Regions from separate parts of the Homo sapiens genome. Here regions 1, 3 and 4 are each reported to be linked to region 2. Evidence: microRNA targets listed by miRTarBase, many of them from high-throughput screens and not tested one by one. Region 2 holds a microRNA gene; each other region holds the end of a gene's coding sequence.

Region 1 (4,000 bases), not on the chromosome of region 2:
TTCAAAATACTCAATTTTTTAGTAGAGAAACTGCCAAGTTATCCTGTGTTTTTCCATTTTGATTTTACTTTCCTTCTTGAAAAGAATACAGTCGATGAAACTTAAATAAATACAGCACATGTTGAGTTTTCTGCCCTAAGTGTTAAAATTCTATGTTTTTTAATGCAGATGTGGAATTAGAAGAAGCTATTAGAAGAAGTCTTGAGGAAATGTAATTAAAGATATTACCACACAACATCAAGTGGCCTTGAAGAGACTGAGATAACGAATTCTTGAGTTTGTTTTCTAAAGGAGACCAGAAATCCACTATTACAAATGTATTTGAAAACATGTTTTTGCTTTCATATGTTCAAAATCTGATCTTTGTTTTGTATTTTTGTGCTAATGTGCAAACATGTACAGAAGAAATAGAATACATGTTCATGCAAATATAAATTATGTATTCTAATATAGGTGTAACAGTTTCCCAGTTAACTTTGAATTTATATATTTAGATTTAAAGGATTAAAAAAAAGGAAAGCTCTTGACAGTTGTTTCCCAAATAGCATTAGTTCTTTAATTTTATTTGTACTGTACAAATGATGCTAGTTTATTTTTTTAGCAGTGAAAATGAATATAAAAAAGGTGACATAGGTCAAGTTTTCCATAAATTCTACTTCTCATGTGGCACTATTATATAATACCTTTGAGATCTTTGTTTATGTTTATTAGAAGAGGGTAATGGAAACTGATCATGGAAACATTTAAAATTTTATCAGCAATGTTCTTTGTGGGTGCCATGCATATGTAAATTATTGCTTTAATTAGAGCAGCACATTGCTAAAATAAAAAATACACCTTAATTTTTAAGAAATAATTTAAATGAAACAATTTCCATTCCTTTTACCTGCTTAGACTTTTATGTGACTTGTATGGTCTCCTGGTTAAAGGGAATGGTGTCAGAATATTTGCATAAAATTATTTTTCATAACAGTCCTTTTTTATATATTGGTGTAAACATAATATTCTTCAAGAAATAATGTTGAAAGCCTACTCAGGAATAATCTTCCTTAACTCTTTAAATTTTTATTTCATGTGAAGTGTTTTCAGTTTAGTTATTCACTGAATTGTCAGTTTCCTTCATTTGGTATTACATATTTAATTCTTAAATATTGAGGCCCCATTGTGAGTAATAAAAAATACGACATAAGTAGAAGACTAAGAAGGGCTTGTCATATTATCTTTGTGTATATGCTTCATGTTATTTAACCAGAAATGTCTTATCTCTAAAAATTTTTAGTAGTAATTATTTACCAAACTTAAAAACATTTCTATAAATATAAAGCTTTTCTTTATATTTAAGACAAAATATAAAGGCTAGAATTTGGTTCCTTCTCTGTAACACTAAATATTTTAGTGTGAAATTGAATTTTTTTATTACTATAGTCTTTTCAATCTATAATTTGTGTTTTTAATTTCTTGATATGTCACTTCTGTTCCTCCCTGCTTGCATTTTTTAAAAACTAGACATTGTGGCTTGAGAATTTATCAATCATCTTTCCGAAATGACCACATTGTGCTTTTAGTTTGTATGTTTAAGTGGTCAAGCAAGGCTCTAGGAGGTAGTCACTGAGCTGGACCTTAAACACATCTGCAGGAGCTCACAAAATGGGAGCAAAAGAGGCATTCCAGAAAGAAGAGTAGTTAAGCAGATGTGGGGGCAGGGCAAGAGGAGACAGCACCTTGTTGCCAGAGATTCTACACAAAGGTGTGATGGACACTGATGCTCTATTAAGAAGCTTTTGTGGTGTGTGTGGTAGAGAATAATTAAGGCTTCTGATAAGACAGGAAAGGGATATTTCATCATGACTGTTAAGAAAAGGTAACTGGGTTGTTTAATGTTTTAATTGATAATTGTCACTGATCGTATTTCTACTTGTTAAATAATTAAAAATCATCTTAAAATTCATACTTTGACTTTAATTTAGACACAAGGAGATGTAATCGCTGTGTAACATCAGAGAAAGCTATATGGATTATCGTCAGAAGTAAATGTTTCTAACATTGACAAAGATGCTTATCTTTTCATTACATCATTCACTCATTAATTCATTCAATCACAAAATATTGAGTACCCACCATGTGCCAGCAACTGTTCTAAGCACTTGGAATATACCAGTAAGCAAAACAAAGCCCTTACCCCTCTGTGGAGCACATATTGGTGGAGAGGAGGGGATTGTACAATGTTAGTAAGCAAGGCAATAAAACTGCATATCTGATGGTGATACGTGTAACGACGGAAAATAAAGAAGGGAAGGGAATAAATAGTGCAGGGACAGGGAGTTGGGGGGAGGCTTGCTATTTTTAATAGGGTTGTCAGAAAAGATCTCACTGATAGGTAAACTTGAGCAAAGACCTGAAGAAGGTGAGGGAATGAGGATGAAAATACATATCGGGAAGAGAGTTCCAGGTGGAGGAGGTTAAGGTCCAGACAGGAGCTTAGTATATTCAAGGAAAAGCAAGAAGACTAGTATGGCTGACAGGATGAGCTAGGAGAGTAATAGGAAATGAACTTACTGAGGTTTTTCTAATGACCTGGGCTTTTACTTTGAGGTAAGGAGCCAGTGAAGGTTTCTGAGAATAAATGGTATGATCTGCCTTATTTAGGATTGCTGTAGTTGCTGCACTGAGATAACATGTACATGAGAGGCAAGAGTAGAAGCAGGGAGACCAGAGAGGAAGGTATTGTAGTATTCCAGGTGCAAACTCACCAGGTAGCTTGAACCAGAATGGTGGCGGTAGAATTGGGAAGAATCTGGATATATTCTGAAGGCAAAATTGATGGGGTTTACTAATGGTGTGGATCTAGGATAAGAGAGAAAAAGAGTTCAGGATGATTCTAAAGTCACTTGATAGACTTTCAAACCACTCACAAAATGTGTTTTGTTTTCGTTTGTGTCATGATAAAGTTATTTTTAATAAGGTCAAATAATCCCCTACCCCAAGAGTTAATTAGGATTTAAAATGAGTTCAGAGGGAATTGGGATCCAGCCTTAAGGGCTTCAACTCTGTTCAAGTATTTAAATGGCTTTGATCTCTGATTAAAGGTGGTGGCTCAGCTTTAAACTATTATTATCTATCATTTTCTGTGCCCTGTACATTGTCATCCTTGCAATGAGAGGCATAGAGCTATCAGGAGAGGGGACTAAAGCCTAACTTTTTAAGTAGACTAATCTTTGTATCCTCAGCTCTATTCCGTCTTTTACCGACAGCTGGTGCCTGACCTAGAGGCCTACTGCATCTTTTTTGTTAACAGGATTTTTAAAAGTTGAGGACTTTTTAATGCCAATTATTTCACTCAGAATATTTATTTATTTATTTATTTTTTTGAGACAAGGTCTCGCTCTATCGCCCAGGCTGGAGTGCAGTGGCGAGATCTCGGCTCGCTCAACAGGAATAATTTTAATAGCAAAAATTTAAAACCCCTTCATTAAGCCAGGCGTGGTGGTTCACATCTGTAATCCCAGCACTTTGGGAGGCTGAGGTGGGAGGACCGCTTGAACCCGGGAGGTCGAGGCTGCAGTAAGTCGTGATCGCGCCACTACACTCCAACGTGGGCGACAGTTAGACCCCATCTCAAAAACAAAAGAAAATTAGAATGGTAAAAATGAAGTAAATTCACTTTGCTTCCCACATCTAGCTAGACAGGGAAAGATGGAGTAGCTTTTTCTTTTTTACTTCATAGCTTCAGTGTTGTCCGGGCTTTCATTACTCTCATCTCAGTATAAAGTGGTAACAGGAAGGTCAGGTGAGTGTGGGCTGCCTACGAGCTGTACTTACTGCCTTCTGTTTCACAAAAGGACGTTTTCTCCCCATAATGTCGTTGTTCTTGCTTTGAATTATGGGTGCTGGGAGAAACTAAACGAAGCCGTCACTGAGCAATACACCCACAGCCCGTCGACCGATAGGAACCTTCGCGTGGGGGGAGTTGGTTACTTTTAGGTTGCATGAAGAGGCGGGG
Region 2 (4,423 bases):
CAAAAATATTCACTACCAATCTAAACTTACCAGGGTTCCTCATTCAACAAATTATTTGGAACTCTGAGGTCTGAAATGCAACAGTTTTACCACCAACATACGGGCACTCCTGAAGCTTGTATTTTAACAACGATAATTAACAACTAGTGGACATCAATTGACAGTACGATTGGTCAACACAGCCTATTTATAAAGTTATTTCAAAAATGTTAACAAACAGTATTATTAGGTTGGTGAAAAAGTATATTCAGACTTACCAACTAAAACTTTAGCTGCTGGATTGTCAACACCAATGTTTTTTAGAATAGTGGCACCATCATTGGTTACCATAAGAGAGGCATCTCGTCCACTGCTTAGAAGAATTTTGTCCTAAAGGGAACATAATTGGTTCAAGTTAAGACATAAGCACATCTTGAAGAATGCATGGATCAATCAGTATTCTCACACAGTGCTAGTGTATAAACACTCTGGATAGCTATTTTGTGGTATCCATTCATCAAATGTTTTCAATACATACACCACGTAACCAAACCATGTATCTACCCCTAGAAACACTAGAAGCACAGGTAGACACTAGTTTTTGTTTCAACACCGTAACTGCAAAAACAATGGAAAGAAACTATCAATACAGCCATAATTAAATTATAAAATAATTAAGGTACAGGATAATATTTGACAGTTAAAGGGGCAGTGTTATCTACTTACACTGAAAGGAATTTAAAAGAGCAAGCTACAAAAAAGTATTGATAAATAGTATCTGTTTTATAAAACAGTATGTTACATGAGTATAAAATACATAATGAAGTACACATACTTCTACATAAACAGAATATTAGAAGATGTACGTGCAAATGATAACAGTACTTGTCATTGGGGAGGGGCATGGGATTGGGGATGGTGATTCTGGGGACTCTGATTTTTACTAAGGAGAACATACTTGTCTTTTATAATTAAACGTTTTAAAGATTAAAAAGCATTTTAATACGCTTGTTATTATATTTCCACCAAGCGCTCTAAAACAATATTAAAATATAAAACTTTTCTATTTTTCTTACCATGCCTTTGGGTCCCAAGGTGCTCTTTACCAAGTCTCCAATGGCGATGGCACCAATAAAAGAAGTCTGGAGTAAAAACCAAGGAGATTATCAGAATCAACTTTACAGTCTTCAAGTACAGTTTTATCTTTATTTACTTTTTTTTTTTTTTGAGGCAGAGTGTCGCTCTGTCGCCCAGGCTGGAGTGCAATGGCGCGATCTCAGCTCACTGCAACCTCCGCCTCCTGGGTTCAAGCGATCCTCCTGCCTCAGCCTCCCGAGTAGCTGGGATTACAGGTGCCCATCACCACGCCCGGCTAATTTTTGTATTTCTAGTAGAAACGGGGTTTTACCATGTTGGCCAGGCTGGTCTCGAACTCCTGACCTCAGTTCATCCGCCTACCTCGGCCTCCCAAAGTACTGGGATTACAGGAGTAAGCCACCGCGCCTGGCCTCCAGTTTTATCTTTAAAACAATGCTTAGAACAAGGCTTACCAGACGAGCTGTCTCTGCTCTCTCTTCATCAGCTCCTGCCTTAAAGATGTTAACAGGTGCAAGGGAAAGGGACGCCTGAAAAGGAAAACCAAGAGGCATTCCGTTTAAGTACCAATACTCTAACACATACACTGAGGTGCCTTCCACTAGTCTTACAAGTGGACATCTAAGAGAAAACTCATTTACAACAATGTTTTCAATCAAATGAAGCTTCCATCATCGGAGAAAGCATTTAAGTGGGAGAGAGGGACTTGTAGGAGAGCGACATGGCTTTTCGGATTTACAAGGCCCCCGGGAGTATAAATTATACACCAGCGAGATTGACAGTTACGTACAGCGAGACTAAAGACGATCTTGAACTAAGAATGAGGCAGGGAGGGGTTGCAGGCCATCAAGGTGACGCCTGCCGGGCGGGCGAGGGAACGCGGCCTCCATCTTCCACCCTCGGAAGGCTGCGGCCCCTCCACCCTCTGATGGCTCAGACCCCGTCGCTCCAGGCTCCGCCCCTAGAAGGAGGGCGGAGCGGGTCCCACACTAGAAATTTCTTCGCTCCGGGTGAGGCGCGGACCTGGGCTGCCGGGACTATGCAAAGACCTAGGCACAAGGAGACGCTGGCTTTGCGGTCCACCCCTCCCCCTCGTGGTGAGCTCCACCGGCTGGCCTGGCGCAGGCCGCACGCCCCGCGCATGGCTCGCACCATGTGCGGAGGGCCGGGGAGACAGAAACGGAGCCTACGACCCTAGCAGGACAGAGGAAGCAGTGGGGTGGCAAGAGCACGGCGGAGCAGGGGTAGGGCAAGAGGCAGGGGAGTCAGGCTCACCATGGTTCCGAGGAGTTCCGCACACAAGTGAATCCCCTCACAGCTCGTGCTCGGGACCAGCGGACTGAAGGAAGCCGGAAGTGACGCCACACGCCCTACTTCGGGGGGCGGGGCCCCGGCCTGTCGTTACCGCCAGCAGGCGTCCCATTTTGATTGGAGCCCCACGGGCCGGAAACGCAGCCTTTCACACTGGAGGGGGCGTGGCCGCCGCTCCAGAACAAAGAGGCGGCTGCCGCGCGGGTTGCCATAGAAATGGAGTTCTTGCTCACACTTTTTATTTTCTTAAATTTAATCTTTAAACACTTCTATTAAAGTCACACATGTACACAGTTTAAAGTGTTATATACCAATAAGGAAAAACATAATTTATCTGCCTCACCACTTCCTGTCTCCAGGAAAACTGCTTTCAACTTTTTCAGTTTTTTGGAGGGGCTATTTACTATCATATTCCCAGATAATATTATTGCTATGTTAATTTTAAACATTATTTACTGAGTATTACAGAAGAAGACTTCCTTTTCTCTTACTGAATTTTCAGACGTTATTTCTAACTGGACGTTGACTGCCCAGGATAAGGTCTTGTGAACTGAGAGAGACATTTATAGTATTTTATCTTTGCCCTATTTACTCATTTTCAGGAATTTTTGCATTTCGGTCTTTTTTTTTTTTTTCCTCCAATAGTAGAGACGACTTATTAGTCTTTGTTTATAATAAACTGAAATATTTGGGACTGATCTTGATGTCTGCCAAAACCTTGGCAGACATCAAGATCAGTCCCAAATATTTCAGTTTATTATAGACAGTTTTCTACTTTCTCTAAGTTGACGGATGTCTAAAAATTTGTTCTCTAAAAAATTTTTCTGTCATCTACTGATACCCTCTTTTCTCCCTTTGACTAACTGATCGCTTAAGCTCCTCGGCAGGGCGCGGTGGCTCACCCCTGTAATCCCAGCACTTTGGGAGGCCGAGGTGGGCGGATCACCTGAGGTCAGGAGTTGGAGACCAGCCTGGCCAACATGGTGAAACCCTGTCTCTACTGAAAATACAAAAATTAGCCGGGCGTGGTGTGCATGCCCGTAATCCCAGCTACTCAGGAGGCTGAGGCAGGATAATTGCTTGAACCCGGGAGGCAGAGGTTTCAGTGAGCCGAGATCACGCCGCTGCACTCCAGCCTGGGCAACAGAGCGAGACTCTGTCTCAAAACAAAAACAAAACAAAACAAGCTCCTGGATTTTTCTTTTTCTGTTTTGTTTTTTTTAGAGATGGGGTCTTCTATGTTGCCCAGGCTGGCCTGGAACTCCTGGGCTCAAGCAATCTTCCTGCCTTGGTCTCCTGAGTAGCTGGGGTCTCCTGGATTTTTGACATTGCTAACATTAACAGGAATTTTCAATTTTTTAGTTGTTTCTACCCTTCAGATTTCCTCTAAGTGGGTTGATTTCCACCAGGGGTTGGCAAGCTGTGAGGAGTCAAACCCAGCCTGCCAGTTGTTTTTTGTATGGCCTGAGAGCTAAGAATAGTTTTTACATTTTTAAGTGGTTGAAAGAAATCAAAAATTTCCTGACACATGAAAATCCTGTGAAATTAATATTTCAGTGTCCATAAAGCTTCATTGGAATCCATGGGCATACCCATACATATTTACTCTGTCACAATACGATAGCAGAGTTATGTGGCAGAGTTGAGTAGTCATGACAGGTTGAATGGGCCCACAAAACCTAAAACATGTATTATCTAATTCTTTACAGAAAAAGTTTGCTGACCCTGGTTTACAGTATTCCTCAGGTCCAACATGAAAAGGGGAGTTCAGGCTGGACAAATTGTTATTTTAAATCTCCCAAGAGTTTTCTCTTCTTTGTAGGAAAATTTGGTCTTCTTTCAGGAAATGTACTTTCCTAGGCAGATCCCAAATCGCATTCTGGAATGAGAAGATTCACAATAAAAAACTAAGATGCCTGCACAATATTGAAAAAGGTTGTTTTTATTGTGGGCAAAATTACATACCTGGAGATATTTATTATGTCCTCTGGTAGGCAAGCCTGAGACTGTGTGTGATGGGGAAACCAATGACTGCTCC
Region 3 (4,000 bases), not on the chromosome of region 2:
ATGTAGAGTTTCAGTTCAGGAAGATGAAAGAGTCCTGGAGATGGATGGTGGTGACGGCTGCACAACAGTAAGAAGGTACTTCATGCCACTGAACCATACACTTAATAATGGCTGGCCGGGCGCGGTGGCTCACGCCTGTAATCCCAGCACTTTGGGAGGCCAAGGCGCGTGGATCACCTGGGGTCAGGAGTTTGAGACCAGCCTGACCAATATGGTGAAACCCCATCTCTACTAAAAATACAAAAATTAGCCAGGAGTGGTGGCAGGCGCCTGTAGTCCCAGCTACTCGGGAGGCAGAGGCAGAAGAATTGCCTGAACCTGGGAGGTGGAGGTTGCGGTGAGCCGAGATCACAGCACTGCACTCCAGCCTGGTGACAGAGCAAGACTCTGTCTCAAAAAACAAAAAGAAAAAAAGATGGCTACAATGGTTAATTTTATGTTATATATATTTTGCCACAATTTAAAAAAGATCACTCAGGAACTTATAAAAATCCCAATGCCCAGGTCTAGTAAGACCATTTCAATCAGAACCTCTGGGGTCAGACCCTGTCACTGGTCTTTTAAAAAAGCTTCCCAGGGGGCTGGGCGTGGTGGCTCACACTTGTAATCCCAGCACTCTGGGAGGCCGAGGCAGGCAATCACCTGAGGTCAGGAGTTCAAGACCAGCCTGGCCAACATGGTGAAACCCCGTCTCTACTAAAAATACAAAAAAAATTAGCTGGGCCTGGTGGCTCACGCCTGTAGACCCAGCTCCTCGGGAGGCTAAAGCATGAGAATTGCTTGAACCCGGGAGGTGGAGGTTGCAGTGAGTTGAGATCATGCAACTGCACTCCAGCCTGGGAAACAGAGTGAGACTGGGTCTCAAATAAATAAATATAAATAAAAATAAATAAAAAGCTTCCCAAGGGATTGTAATGCGAGGATTGAGAACCACTAGACTAGATCTTCAAAGCAACAGGCAAGCTGAGTGACCAATGGGGTGGTCTATAAAAGGGGAGACACTCTCCTTCCATTCTTTTGACCTCTGACCTCTGCTTCTGGTCCCGGCCCCTCTGCCCACTCCTCTGGTCCCTAAGACCAAATTTAAGATATTGGAGCACCCAGGTCCCTGGCTAAACGCCACAGCCCTTTTCCTCACTTCTGGCCAGGAATAGTGCATCGCATTCTTCATGGGTGGGAGAGACCTTCAGCTCCAGTGAGAGACAAATGTAAAAGAATCAACAAAATGCAAATGAAATTAAATAAACTTGTTTTAATCATTAGCAGAACAAGAGCAAGCAGTAAGTGTTGATCACCCCATTTGTGGAGTGAGGGGTGGAGGGAGTATTTATAAATGCTTTGAAAAAAAGTTTCTCCTCTTAGCGGTAAGGTCCTGGATCACTTACTCCCAGCAGCATCCGAGGCTCCCGAGAGCCATTTCTGTGCTGTCTCATTCCAGGAATGTGTGTGGAGCACCTGCTCTGAACCGGCACTGTGCTGGGTACTTGCTGGGAATACGAGATGACCCCAGCTTTCTAGGAGCTAATTGGCTGATGAGCCGAGGCAGGGACATTTGCAGAAAGGAGAAAAATAGAAAGACATAGATTTTCATGACTGAGCTATGGATAATCTGGACACCAAAAAATAAACCTTTGCTTCATTACTTGCCTGATGCCTTTGCCTCCATCCCCATCCTAAAACCAGGGCTGGACTATGGGGTGACACAAGTGGGGATCCCATTTCAAGTGCAAAATTTAAGGGGGCCCCAAAAGTCCCCATAGTCAATATAAATAACATTTTAATGCAATTGTCTAAAAATAAAAATTCACATTAAAAGTCCCTCATAGACAACATTTGAAAGTCAGGACCAGAGCCTGCACTTGCAAGAGCTGGCCTCTCCTGCCTCACCCTTATCCTGCCCCTGGCTCCAATCAAATTTCATTTCTATAAATGGCTCATGGGCTGTAGTTTGTTAATTTGTTTTTTTAGAATATTGCATTAAAATATGATTTATTTTGATCATTTACTTTGAGCTTTTTAGAGATGAGTGCCTTGATTATTTCACCCTAGTCCCAGCCCTGTGGCAAAGTATCCTTGAAAACAGAGATGCCAGTAAAAGACAAGATGCATGATTGAATTCCAATCTCAGATTAAATATGCCCATGGGATATACTTATACAAGAAGACTATTTGTCTGAAATTCAAATTTAATTGAGTACCTTGTTTTTGTTTGCTAAATATGGCAGCCCTGCTTGAGGAGTATCAAACTGACTCCCCCGAAGACAAGGTGGTATTTAGTCCCATAGCAACATACCCCACCCACGTACACATGCATTTTACATACCATGAAAGTGACACTCCTGTGCATTAACACACTGTTTCCAAAGGATGTCCATCCCTTGATCTTCCTACAGCCTCTTGCCCTATACTTTCAGTCATTGAGCCTGACCCCAACTGCCTGGGCCCTCCTCAGCCTCCATGGGTCACAGTAGGCAGGAAAGATCCCACAGGCTGGTGGATGCAAAGTCTTGGATCTCTCAGAGCCACCCTGGGCATGTCCAGATCCAGCCAAACTCCTATTGCTTTACCTGGGCCCTCCTGCTTTCAGTATTTATTCCCACTGGGCAAATTGAATTCTGATCAGCAGGGACTCTGGCCATGGAGAGTTATAGGTCAACTTCCTGGGACAACAGGTGTGACAATCAATGCATCAATGGCAAACCAAAAATGGTGGGGACATTCCTTGCCCCAAGAGAATGGTAGTGTAAATCAGGCTGGTAGAAGCCAAACTCAGAAAGGTAGATAGAGCCAGAAAGGAGAGGAACAGACCAAAGACGACATTCAGAGGGTCCCCAGGCACTGGGGCCAATCCTCAAAGGGAGGATCAAGCAGAACTCCTGCTGTGCAGGGACAGAGAACTGAGGCAAAGAGAGAGAGAGGCAAGACTTGATAGGAGAGGAAGAGCAGAGAGGAGTGGCACTCTGGTGGGTGGAGTTACATACTCTCCAAGGAGGGCAGGCACACCCCAGCTGACCTGGGAGAGCAGACTGTCTCTTGCAGCATCCTGCCATGGCCACATGGGGGCGCTTCTAGCTCCCTCTCACCCTGCCCAGTGTTCTCCAAGGGTGGGCTTGCAGCAGAATTACCTGGGATGCTTATTAAACAGCTCCAATTCCTGGCCATGGTCCCAGACTCACTGTCTTAGAATCTTAGCCACAAGTCTAGGATTCTGCATTTTAAAAGCTTCCTAGGAGGTTTTCACGCACCCTAAACCCAACCTCAGATGGAAAGCATGCACCCCAAGGGATAAAGGAAGAGATATTGGCTGGCTTCTCTATAACAGGAGACCTCTCTTCATGGTGGGACTTCATTGGCTTGAATTTAGAGCCAGGCCCTAGGGTCTGGTGGGCATTGTGGAAAACACACTGGTGGGGGTTATTAGGATGAGAAGAGCAGGCAGAGGCTGTGAGCATGACACACAGCCTCTTTCATACAGAGCTTGAAGAACCTTGTGATAGCTTTCATATCAAAGTGGCATGGTGAATGGAACGAGAATGATTCCGTGCCCAGCAACGTGTGTCCTGCTTTGCTTCCTCTTCCTGGGCCCCCTCAAGAGTCCCTGGGAGCAGAGCCAGGGTGGTGGAACTCCACCCTAGATCTCACTCTCTTCCAGAATCTCCTCCATGGTGTTGGCCATGGTGACATCCCCCTCACTGCACTCGGACAGGCTGCTGCCCCGGGGCCAGCGTGCATGGTCCTGTTGGGGCTGGGCGCCCAGCTCCCCAAGACCTCGCATGGCTAGATGTAGGAGCCGCCCACTGTTAAGTGAGGGCTGCAGCTTCCGAAGCTTCTCAGCGCCATCTCCTTCCGAGAGCTTCTTGGGACATTTTCCTAGGAACCGGAAGTCCTTCCCCAGGACACAGGCTCTGCAGCCTGAGTGGCGGGCTAGCAAGAAGCGGACCCAGTATTTCCGCAGCTCAGCCTTCACCTGCCGGGTGAGACAAGTGAGAGGTTACTGTCT
Region 4 (4,000 bases), not on the chromosome of region 2:
GCTTGAACCAGGGAGGCAGAGGTTGCAGTGAGCCGAGATTGCGCCAATGCACTCCAGCGTGGGCGACAGAGCAAGACTCCATTGCAAAAAAAAAAAAAAAAAAATTATATATGGCCAGGCAGAGTGGCTCACACTTGTAATCCCAGCGCTTTGGGAGGCTGAGGCAGAAGGACCGCTTGAGGCCAGGTGTTTGAGACCAGCCTAGGAAACAAAGCAAAAAAAAAAAAGCCAGGTGTGGTGGTGCATAGCTGCAGTCCCAGCTACTCAGGAGGCTGAGGTGGGAGAATTGCATGAGCCAAAGAGTTCAAGGCTGCAGTGAGCTATGATTGTGCCACTGCATGATGGGCGACAGAGTGAGACACTGTCTCAAAGGCAAAACAAAATGAAACGAACACACACACACACACACACATATATGCACAGAGAAAGGAGGTCTGGAAAGATATATACCTAATTTTAAAGGAGTAGGGCCTGGTGAGATTTTTTTTTTAACTTTCTGCATTCCAACTTATTTTGTAATTTCCAACACACACACACACACACACACACACACACACACACACACACACACACACACACCAGACAGGAAAAAAATTCTCAAATTCTCTCTGGCCTGAATATTTCATAGGACTTTGAAAGTCATTAAACTGAATAGAAGAGGTGGTTAATTCTTCTGGCAAGTGTGAGAATTTCCATACCCAGTGTTTCTTTTTGAGAGAGGCTGTAGGAGAGAAGAGATGGAGAATGAATTGCTCCAGCATTACTCATTCTCAGCACATCCAAACAGGTAGTCTCATTCTTGTCCCTGTCACCACTACAGCCCTGACACAGAGTCACAGAGAAACTCTTTGATAAATGTCAACTGAAATTGAGTAATCATCTGAAAGCCATTTGCTGAGCTGTCTGACTGCCCTGGGCTCGAGGTTTTCCTTTATTCATTTATCATGATACAGCTTTGGCCAACATACACACAGGAGAGAAATTGTTGACATGTGGAACCCAAGTACAGAAAATCTTTCATTTTCCTCCCTGTCTGTTCACCAAATAAGTTTTTGTTTATTTAAAGACTACAGAGGATTTGGCTGTTAAGAACCAAATGCCTTTGGAGTGGAATTACAACATAATTTATCATTTCCTCTGTTTATTAAAAAATCCTGCATCTTTGAGAAGCACATTTGCAGTGAGTGGGGGATTTCGGCCACTCATGAAAGACTGTTGCAAAGCCCCTGTCATGTGGCTTACCCCAAAAGAGGCTCCTTAATTGCTCTATCTATCCCTGCTCTTCCCCCAGCTGACTTCTGATCATGTGATGACCACTTAGGGCTGGTGGATGGGGTTAGAGGACAGGTAAGTGGGGCAGGAGACTGTGTTAGTTTAACTTTGACCCAATTTTGACCTTGAATCCTCACTGCATGTTTCACCAGTGTAAGTAAAGAGGGAAGTGCAACCCTTATTACCTCCAGCACAGGAGAGAATCTGGAGGAAGTCAAAGAGCAAAGAGAAGTTGGATGTTGCTTTGAAAGAACTCAGCCAGGCCTTGCCACCACCAAAGTGGGCTCCATTCTGAAAGCAGACACCTTGCAGAACTGGAATGAACTTCCTACTTTTCCACCCAATAGATTATTATAGACAGCAATTTAGTTCAGTGCACTATGTACCCCCCCAAAACAGGGGTCATATCTTTCCCATTTTTGTATTGCCAGTACATAGTTCAGCACCTGACAAACAATTGGTGCTCACTAAATGCTAATGAAGGCAGCAGGACACAGTGGTTCCTTCCAGATTGGTGAGGTGCTGAGAGAGTGTGAGCCCAGAGAAGGCATGGAAGCTCCACACCCTCTCCCTCTCCCTCAACCTTGCCCTGTGTACCTCCTTCATTGGGCTGTTCAGCTGTATCTTTTATAATAAACCAGTGAACGTGTTTCCCTGAGTTGTGTGAGCTGTCCTAGGAAATTAACTGAACCAAAGGAAATCAAGGACTCTAGTTTGTAGTTGGTCAGTCAGGAGTATGGGTGGCCCAGACTCATGACTGGCATCAAAAGTGTTGGCAGTCTTGGGAGATGGAGCCCTCAACCTGTGGGATCTGACACTATTTCCAGGTAATGTCAGAAATGAATTGAATTATAGGATACCCAGTTGGTGTCTGCTGGAGAATTGCTTGGTGTGTGGGGGAAACAAACTCACACACCTTGTCACAGAAGTGTTCCATGTTGAGTGTGAAAGTACAAAAGGAAAAAAAGTTTGTTTTTTTCCTTTTACATTAGCACATCAGGCCTCAATTTGAATGCCAGCTCTGCTACTTGCTAGGTGTGTAACCCTGCACAAGAAACTTCACCTCTATGTAAATGACGCTGACAATGAATCATGAAAACCTTCTACCACTGATCAGCTTTGCTTTGTTACTTTGGGCAAATTACCTAATACTGTCAAGACTTAGTTTTCCTATTTGTAAATGAAGATAATACACATCTCTTAAGTTTACTGTCAAGATTATAAATAATGCCTAGAACTATACCTAACTCATAATGGCTATATTAGGAATGAATGAATGAATAAAAAATAATTGGAGGGAAAAAAACCTAATAACCCAGTATCCGAAGATAAGCCACAATAAACTACTTGTCTGTCAACAATGGGCAGGCCCTGCAGGAAAGGTATGTCACTACCAAGTAAATGTTGAGAACAAGTACAAGAGTGGAAAATGATAGAAAGGGAGTGTTAAGACTAGAAAGAAAAGAAGTCAGCATTTGCTGGGTAGCTACTATGTGCAATTTATTCACGATACAACATATGACTGCCTACTATGCTCCAGGCATTACACAAAGTTCTGAGGATATACAGGCTAATTAAGTGCAACAAGAATACTTAGAATTCGTACAAAGCAGTAGACTGTGCTATGAGAGCCGGTAATGAGGGTCCTAGGTTAGAGGGGAAAAGAAGACTTCCCAGAGGACGTGATATCCAAGACAAGGCCTGATGATAAACAGGACTGGCCAGGTAAGGAGGGGAAGAGAGAGCCAGGCAGAGAAAACAGCATGTGTGAAGACGACTCACAGGCAAAACTACTGTTATGGGTGCCTCACATACAGATCCTCAGTGATCATCAATCCAGACCAACTCTATTCTTTCCTTTGTGGTTGTTATTCCTTCCAATTTATTTAGATTTTATTGTTTAGTGAAAATGGGCCTCTAGTAAAGTGTCCAGTCACAGGTGAAGGCCAATATCAGAGTTTTAAAATGGGAACAGAGCCTAATTATTTGAAAAGGAGACTCCTAAGATGAGGAGCAGGTGGTACTAAGCCTGCCAATGGCCTCAGTCCCTTGGCAACATCAAGTCAAAGCAAATGCCTGAGTACAGGCCTTTTGCCAGCAGCAAGTATTTTCTGAGAGCCACCCACCGGCCCAGAGCAGAAGCAGGAAGAGAATGAACATGTCTGAGTGTTCCCCTGGAAGGCTGGGCCTTACAAGGACAGGCTTCTGTCAGCATGGTGACAGTCTTCTGTGTAGATGGGGGAGGGAGAGAAGTCCCAATGTGCCACCCATGGGATCCAGCAGAAACTGGGCTCTGGAGTATTGCTGGCCCCAGTGGACTTTCATCCAAGGAGTTCTTTGGTCTTCACTGCCAGATGCCTGTCCAGTTCTGCCACTGTGTCATCGGCCATTTGGCTGATCTGCAAGAACACAAAATGAGACAGCCTGATTAATGGGGCTGGAAAAGGGTAGGGGGATGAATATTCCAGAAACATGAAAAGGTTATGTGAGAAATAATAATAGTGACAAAAGTTCACATTAAGTACCAGTCAGGCACTGTACTAAGAACTTTATATATACATTCTTTTTTTTTTTTTGAGACAAAGTCTCGCTCTGTCGCCCAGGCTGGAGTGCAGTGGTGCAATCTCGGCTCACTGCAAGCTCCGCCTCCTGTGTTCACGCCATTCTCCTGCCTCAGCCTCCCGAGTAGCTGGGACTACAGGTGCCCGCCACCGCGCCCGGCTAATTT

What was found. The annotated mature microRNA hsa-miR-3913-5p reads UUUGGGACUGAUCUUGAUGUCU and lies in region 2 at 3,109-3,130, opposite strand. An mRNA with a match to its seed (bases 2 to 7 or 8) in the 3' UTR can be bound and repressed. Matches are read on the target gene's strand: a 7mer-m8 pairs with bases 2 to 8, a 7mer-A1 pairs with bases 2 to 7 and ends in A, and an 8mer does both.
Region 1: miRTarBase lists ZNF451 as a target of hsa-miR-3913-5p. Seed matches in the 3' UTR shown: 7mer-A1 at 536-542.
Region 3: the mRNA of GLP2R is a reported target of hsa-miR-3913-5p. The part of its 3' UTR that is shown has no 7-base or 8-base seed match.
Region 4: the mRNA of MRRF is a reported target of hsa-miR-3913-5p. Seed matches in the 3' UTR shown: 7mer-A1 at 150-156.

Annotation. Positions count from the first base shown.
Region 1 is chr6:57,168,255-57,172,254 of GRCh38, forward strand. ZNF451 (zinc finger protein 451) reads left to right here. Exons shown (of 15, transcript NM_001031623.3): 15 at 169-2,051. The coding sequence ends at 215. It overlaps ZNF451-AS1 (ZNF451 regulatory antisense RNA 1), which reads right to left and starts at 3,959. Exons shown (of 4, transcript NR_110742.1): 1 at 3,820-3,959; 2 at 2,751-2,844.
Region 2 is chr12:69,583,451-69,587,873 of GRCh38, reverse strand. It overlaps MIR3913-2 (microRNA 3913-2), which reads right to left and starts at 3,151; the gene lies at 3,052-3,151. CCT2 (chaperonin containing TCP1 subunit 2) reads right to left here and starts at 2,415. Exons shown (of 16, transcript NM_006431.3): 1 at 2,350-2,415; 2 at 1,530-1,604; 3 at 1,056-1,121; 4 at 258-369. The coding sequence starts at 2,352. MIR3913-1 (microRNA 3913-1) reads left to right here and starts at 3,051; the gene lies at 3,051-3,152. RefSeq lists an enhancer at 2,045-2,384.
Region 3 is chr17:9,889,337-9,893,336 of GRCh38, reverse strand. GLP2R (glucagon like peptide 2 receptor) reads right to left here. Exons shown (of 13, transcript NM_004246.3): 13 at 1,238-3,967. The coding sequence ends at 3,632. Among named protein-coding and RNA genes, the nearest start is that of RCVRN, 14 kb to the left of the region's middle.
Region 4 is chr9:122,322,211-122,326,210 of GRCh38, reverse strand. It overlaps MRRF (mitochondrial ribosome recycling factor), which reads right to left. Exons shown (of 7, transcript NM_138777.5): 7 at 1-3,671. The coding sequence ends at 3,594. Among named protein-coding and RNA genes, the nearest start is that of PTGS1, 47 kb to the left of the region's middle.